2 linked regions of the Homo sapiens genome follow. The protein of the gene in region 1 interacts with the protein of each later gene in a pairwise test. Each region holds a gene or a part of one and is shown in the gene's direction. Other genes may lie near its edges. The genes, in order: DEGS1 and NAGPA.

The links.
Region 2: the proteins of DEGS1 (region 1) and NAGPA interact in a two-hybrid assay, tested with the Homo sapiens proteins (one large-scale study listed by BioGRID and IntAct).

The regions. Positions count from the first base shown.
Region 1 is NC_000001.11:224,189,611-224,193,425, forward strand, and holds part of DEGS1 (sphingolipid delta(4)-desaturase DES1), read left to right. Parts: coding exon 1-709; intron 710-1,481; coding exon of another isoform or gene 1,482-1,523; exon of another isoform or gene 1,524-1,546; intron 1,547-2,721; coding exon 2,722-2,868; 3' UTR 2,869-3,815. UniProt on the Homo sapiens protein: Has sphingolipid-delta-4-desaturase activity. Converts D-erythro-sphinganine to D-erythro-sphingosine (E-sphing-4-enine). Catalyzes the equilibrium isomerization of retinols.
Region 2 is NC_000016.10:5,024,336-5,027,946, reverse strand, and holds the end of NAGPA (N-acetylglucosamine-1-phosphodiester alpha-N-acetylglucosaminidase precursor), read left to right. Parts: intron 1-53; coding exon 54-101; intron 102-567; coding exon 568-669; intron 670-748; coding exon 749-812; intron 813-2,261; coding exon 2,262-2,469; 3' UTR 2,470-3,103; downstream 3,104-3,611. UniProt on the Homo sapiens protein: Catalyzes the second step in the formation of the mannose 6-phosphate targeting signal on lysosomal enzyme oligosaccharides by removing GlcNAc residues from GlcNAc-alpha-P-mannose moieties, which are formed in the first step.

The DNA.
Region 1 (3,815 bases):
TGATCCCAATTTGATATGGATTATAATTATGATGGTTCTCACCCAGTTGGGTGCATTTTACATAGTAAAAGACTTGGACTGGAAATGGGTCATATTTGGGGCCTATGCGTTTGGCAGTTGCATTAACCACTCAATGACTCTGGCTATTCATGAGATTGCCCACAATGCTGCCTTTGGCAACTGCAAAGCAATGTGGAATCGCTGGTTTGGAATGTTTGCTAATCTTCCTATTGGGATTCCATATTCAATTTCCTTTAAGAGGTATCACATGGATCATCATCGGTACCTTGGAGCTGATGGCGTCGATGTAGATATTCCTACCGATTTTGAGGGCTGGTTCTTCTGTACCGCTTTCAGAAAGTTTATATGGGTTATTCTTCAGCCTCTCTTTTATGCCTTTCGACCTCTGTTCATCAACCCCAAACCAATTACGTATCTGGAAGTTATCAATACCGTGGCACAGGTCACTTTTGACATTTTAATTTATTACTTTTTGGGAATTAAATCCTTAGTCTACATGTTGGCAGCATCTTTACTTGGCCTGGGTTTGCACCCAATTTCTGGACATTTTATAGCTGAGCATTACATGTTCTTAAAGGGTCATGAAACTTACTCATATTATGGGCCTCTGAATTTACTTACCTTCAATGTGGGTTATCATAATGAACATCATGATTTCCCCAACATTCCTGGAAAAAGTCTTCCACTGGTAAGTAAAGGATTTGATACATATTCTAATTTTGTTTTTTCATTTGTTTGTTTTTTGAGACGGTGTCTCACTCAGTCGCCCAGGCTGGCGGGCAGTGGCACGATCTCGGCTCACTGTAACCTCCACCTCCCGGGTTCAAACGATTCTCATGCCTCAGTCTCCCAAGTAGTTGGGATTACAGGCGCATGCTACCACGCCCAGCTAATTTTTGTATTTTTAGTAGAGATGGGGTTTTGCCATGTTGGCCAGGCTAGTATTTTGTCAGTCCAAGCAGTTCATTAAAAAAAAAAAAAACAAAAAGAGCAAGAATATAAATACTGCATCTTCCAGCCTACTTTTACAAAGGGTTCACTCTTGGGTCCTTAAGCTTAGTGGTTACACTTAGGATTTATTTTTAATTTTATTTTTTAACTTTATGTTTTTTTAGAGACAGGGTCTTGCCCTGTCACCTAGTCTAGAGTGCAGTGGTACGATAGCTCACTGCAGCCTCAACTCCTGGGTCAAGCGATCCTCCCACCTCAGCCTCCTGAGTAGGCAGGATTATAGGCACGTGCCACCATGCCTGGCTAATTTTTTATTTTTTGTAGAGGCAGGGTCTTGCTGTGTTGCTCAGGCTGGTCTCAAACTCCTGGATTCAAGTGATCCTCCTGCCTCAGCCTCCCAAGTAGCTAGGACTACAGCCACATGCTATGACAGGCTGATTTTTTAAATAATTTCTTTTAATCCTCCAAATGGTTTGTTAAAATTTTTAACATTTTTAACATTTTTATAGAGCTGGAGTTTCCTGGATGGGTGCAGTGGCTCACACCTGTAATCCCAGCACTTTGGGAGGCCTAGGTGAGTGGATCATCTGAGGTCAGGAGTTCGAGACCAGCCTGGCCAACATAGTGAAAGCCTGTCTCTACTAAAAATACAAAAAACTTAGCTGGGCATGGTGGCGGGTACCTATAGTCCCAGCTACTCGGGAGGCTGAGGCGGGAGAATCGTTTGAACTCGGGCAGTGGAGGTTGCAGTGAGCCGAGATTGTGCCACTGCACTCCAGCCTGGGTGACAGAGCGAAACTCCGTCTCAAAAAAAAAAAAAGAGAGAGATGGGTTTCCCTGTGTTGCCCAGGCTGGTCTCAAATTCCTGGGCTCAAGTGATTCTCTTGCCTTCCAGAATGATGCTGGGATTATACATACGAACCACTGTGCCCATCCAGATAGTTTTTTAACTTGAGATGAAAAGACATTTTTAACTTGAGATGGCAGAATTGCACATTTGATAAGTGCTTTTTTTTTTTTTTTTTTTTTTTTGAGATGGAGTCTCTCTCTCACCCAGGCTGGAGTGCAGTGGCACAATCTCGGCTCACTGCAACCTCCGCCTCCCGAGTTCAAGCAATTCTCCTATCTCAGCCTCCTGAGTTGCTGGGACTACAGGCGCACGCCACCATGTCTGGCTAATTTTTTTGTATTTTTAGTAGAGATGGGGTTTCACCATATTGGTTAGGCTGGTCTCGAACTCCTGACCTCAGGTGATCCACCCGCCTCGGCTTCCCAAAGTCCTGGGATTACAGGTATGAGCCACCGCACCCAGCCAAGTGCTTAATTTCTATCTAATTAGCATGCCACAATTTATTAGTATTTGTAAGTTCCTGGATGGCAGGGATCAGATGTTGCCTTTATATTCTATGGCGTCATCCATGCAGTACATTCTTTAATAATATCAAGTTAATCTAATTGTATGTATTTGTTGTTAATTTTACAAATAAGCCAGATATTTAGTCCCTTGGAATGTGATGGGAGAGAGACCTAGAGGGTCGAGTGTATTCAACTGCTGCTGAAATGTAGACTGCTTTTTGTTTAGAATTCCCACAGCTGCTGCTGCTGCTGCTTTTTTTTTTTTTTAAGAGAGAGGAGGGAGGCAGGTCTCATGGTTTCCCTTCTCAGTGTTTGTGTCAACCATTCATCAGTCATCTTTGAAAGAACCTAGTAACACTCATTTTTCATCTTGCTGTATTTTTTCCCTTCTAGGTGAGGAAAATAGCAGCTGAATACTATGACAACCTCCCTCACTACAATTCCTGGATAAAAGTACTGTATGATTTTGTGATGGATGATACAATAAGTCCCTACTCAAGAATGAAGAGGCACCAAAAAGGAGAGATGGTGCTGGAGTAAATATCATTAGTGCCAAAGGGATTCTTCTCCAAAACTTTAGATGATAAAATGGAATTTTTGCATTATTAAACTTGAGACCAGTGATGCTCAGAAGCTCCCCTGGCACAATTTCAGAGTAAGAGCTCGGTGATACCAAGAAGTGAATCTGGCTTTTAAACAGTCAGCCTGACTCTGTACTGCTCAGTTTCACTCACAGGAAACTTGTGACTTGTGTATTATCGTCATTGAGGATGTTTCACTCATGTCTGTCATTTTATAAGCATATCATTTAAAAAGCTTCTAAAAAGCTATTTCGCCAGGCACGGTGGCTCATGCCTATAATCCCAGCACTTTGGGAGGCCAAGGTGGGTGGATCACCTGAGGTCAGGAGTTCGAGACCAGCCTGGCCAACACGGTGAAACCCCATCTCTACTAAAAATGCAAAAATTAGCCGGGCGTGGCGGCACATGCCTGTAATCCCAGCTACATGGGAGGCTGAGGTGGGAGAATTGCTTGAACCCAGGAGGCGGAGGCAGAGGCTGCAGTGACCCAAGATTGTGCCACTGCACTCCACCCTGGGCAACAGAGCAAGACCCCATCTCAAAAATAAATAAATATATATAAAAAATAAAAAGCTATTTCTAGTTTATTTCACTATAAAGTTTTGCTTTATTAAAAAGCTAATAAACAGCTATTAATCACAGTGTATTAGTATTTGTTACATTTTTGTATTTCACTATCTTTATACTATATAATATGGTAACTTGGGTACCGGGGGAACTTTAAAATTTCATCTCAAAAATAATTTTTAAAAAGCCTGAGGTATGATATAGCATAAAAGATTGAGATGAAAATATATTTCCCTGTAAGCTGAATTACTCATTTAAAAATTTTAACTTCTATATGGGACCCGAATTAGACACTGCTGAATCCTGTACAGCCTTACTCATAAATAAAGTACTTACTGA
Region 2 (3,611 bases), on another chromosome or scaffold:
AGCCCTGCCTTGCCCTAGGCCCTCACCTGGCCTCCCCGGTCTTGTCTCGGCAGCCGGCTGCCGCTGTGATGCCGGATGGACCGGGTCCAACTGCAGTGAAGGTAGGAGCTGCCACGCCACTAGCGGATGGGGAGACGGTGGCCCCCGGCAGCCCCCACTGCTCCTCTGCTGCTTCTGTCTCCACCTTCTGGTCTGGGAAATGCTTGCCTCTTGTCTTCTGCCCCGGCCTCACCTGCACATCACTGTGTGACTCCCCTGTGGCTGCTGCGGCCCGTTCCACAAAGGGCTCGGCTAAAACAAGGGTCCCCGGGCTCTGGCTCCAGGGCCCACCTCAAATCCAGCACGGTCTTATCTTGAGATCCTAACTGCAGTGCCTCTGTAGAGATTCTGCTTCCAAATAAGGTCACGTTCAGGGGCTAGTCCAGGGAGGGCAGGGGGTGCTTCACCTTTAGCCCGGCTCTGTACACATGGGCAGGGGCAGGTATCCTGTCCTGTCGAGAAAGGCTCTGACACTGGAGGCCCCAACCTTTCTCCTCCCTCCTCCCTCCTCCCATCTCCTTTCCATAGAGTGTCCCCTTGGCTGGCATGGGCCGGGCTGCCAGAGGCCTTGTAAGTGTGAGCACCATTGTCCCTGTGACCCCAAGACTGGCAACTGCAGCGTCTCCAGAGGTACCTATCCCTCCAAGGGGAGGGGTATGGGCAGACGCTCCTGCTCCGGCCCCTTCAGCCTGTCTCTGGTATGTTACAGTAAAGCAGTGTCTCCAGCCACCTGAAGCCACCCTGAGGGCGGGAGAACTCTCCTTTTTCACCAGGTAGGTGCTTCTGTGGGAGCTGGGGCCAGGGCGGGAGGAATCCCCCTTCTCTCCCGCACCCTTCCCCTGTGAGGTCCATCTCTGCCCTTGTCCCCTGCCAGCTCCCTGCCTTAGAGGAAGCGGGACCAGCTCTCCCCACTGTCTGCTTTGGGGACCCTGGAGCAGAGCCCAGGGCCTTCGAGTGCCCAGCCTCTGTTGTCAGCATCCCCCACTGGAGCTCAGAATGCAAACTGGGCTAGATGAGATCCCAGGGTGGGGGCAGGAGGTTTCCTCATTCTGTCACCCAGGCAGAAGTGCTGTAGTACAGTCAGCTCACTGCGATCCTCCCGCCTCAGCCTCCCAAGTAGCTAGGACGACAGGCACGTGCCCCCATGCCCGGCTAATTTTATTTCTTACTGTTTTTTAGAGATAGGATCTCACTATTTTGCACAGACGAGGTGCACAGTCCTGGGCTCAAGTGATCCTCCCACCTTGGCCTCCCAGCCCCCATGCCCAGCATCCAGCTGTGTTTTATTTGGCTTACATAATTTTTAAAAAGTTAAAATATATCAGCAGCATCTAAAAATCAGTAACATTCACATTTTTTTAAACTTTTTTTTTTGAGACGGGGTCTCACTCTGTTGCCTAGGCTGGAGTGCAGTGGTGCGATCTCAGCTCACCACAACCTCCGCCTCCTGGGTTCAGGCAATTCTCCTGCCTCAGTCTCCTGAGTAGCTGGGATTACAGGTGCCCGGCTAATTTTCATATTTTTAGTAGAGACAGGATTTCGCCATGTTGGCCAGGCTGGTCTTGAACTCCTGACCTCAAGTGATACGCCCGCCTAAGCCTCACAAAGTGCTGGGATTGCAGGCATGAGCACCACGCCCAGCCTTAAAAACCTTTTTAATGGCTTCTCTTAAAATATCAGGCCAGGCGTGGTGGCTCACGCCTGTAATCCTAGCACTTTGGGAGGCCGAGGCAGGTGGATCACTTGAGGTCAGGAGTTCAAGACCAGCCTGGCCAACATGGTGAAACCTGGTCTCTACTGAAAATACGAAAATTAGCCAGGCGTGGTGATTCGAGCCTGTAGTCCCAGCTACTCGGGAGTCCAAGGCAGGGGAATCGTTTGAAGCCAGGAGGCGGAGATTGCAGTGAGCTGAGATCATGCCACTGCACTCCAGCCTGGATGACAGGGCGAGACTCTGTCTCAAAAAAAAAAAAAAAAAATCAGGAGATGGGGCAGCACGGACCTGCATTGTACGTCATGACTGCCTCTGCTGTTCCCTGCACATGTCTTAAATGTTGCCCCATCCCCACCTAGTCCATTTTGCTCATAACATTCCCTGTGTGGTCCCTGGAGGCACCTGATTTAGTGCTATCTATGCCGGGTAGAGGGAAGCCCCTCCAGTGCTACCCAAGCCCTGAGCCCACCCAGCAGTCCCCCACTTGGGGCTTCTCTCCTGTCTGCAGGACCGCCTGGCTAGCCCTCACCCTGGCGCTGGCCTTCCTCCTGCTGATCAGCACTGCAGCAAACCTGTCCTTGCTCCTGTCCAGAGCAGAGAGGAACCGGCGCCTGCATGGGGACTATGCATACCACCCGCTGCAGGAGATGAACGGGGAGCCTCTGGCCGCAGAGAAGGAGCAGCCAGGGGGCGCCCACAACCCCTTCAAGGACTGAAGCCTCAAGCTGCCCGGGGTGGCACGTCGCGAAAGCTTGTTTCCCCACGGTCTGGCTTCTGCAGGGGAAATTTCAAGGCCACTGGCGTGGACCATCTGGGTGTCCTCAGCCCCTGTGGGGCAGCCAAGTTCCTGATAGCACTTGTGCCTCAGCCCCTCACCTGGCCACCTGCCAGGGCACCTGCAACCCTAGCAATACCATGCTCGCTGGAGAGGCTCAGCTGCCTGCTTCTGGCCTGCCTGTGTCTGCTGCCGAGAAGCCCGTGCCCCCGGGAGGGCTGCCGCACTGCCAAAGAGTCTCCCTCCTCCTGGGGAAGGGGCTGCCAACGAACCAGACTCAGTGACCACGTCATGACAGAACAGCACATCCTGGCCAGCACCCCTGGCTGGAGTGGGTTAAAGGGACGAGTCTGCCTTCCTGGCTGTGACACGGGACCCCTTTTCTACAGACCTCATCACTGGATTTGCCAACTAGAATTCGATTTCCTGTCATAGGAAGCTCCTTGGAAGAAGGGATGGGGGGATGAGATCATGTTTACAGACCTGTTTTGTCATCCTGCTGCCAAGAAGTTTTTTAATCACTTGAATAAATTGATATAATAAAAGGAGCCACCAGGTGGTGTGTGGATTCTGAATCATGGACTTAGGTCACTGCTAGGGCTTAGCAGGTGTGGCTTATCCTGAAACAGAAGTCACAACGGCATCCTGGAGCCAAGTCCTGTTCCCTGCTTGTTTAATCCAGTGCTTATCAAACTTTAATATGCCACAGGTCACGAGGAGATCTTGTTAAAATGCAGATTTGGGCCTGGGGTGAGGCCAGCAATTCTGCGTTTCCAACAAGCTCTCTGACGATGCTGATGCTTCAGGTCCCCAGACCACACTTCTTGTCTTTCTTAGAAACAGGGTCTCGCTCTGTTGCCCTGGCTGGAGTGCAATGGCACGATCTCGGCTCACTGCAATTTTGACCTCCTGGGCTCAAGTGATTCTCCCACCTCAGTCTCTCAAGTAGCTGGGACTATAGGCACATGCCACCATGCCCAGCTAATTTTTAAAATTTTTTTTGCAGAGAAGGGGTGTCACTGAGTTGCCCAGGCTGGTCTCAAGCTCCTGGCCTCAAGTCAACCTCCTGCCATGGCCTCCCAA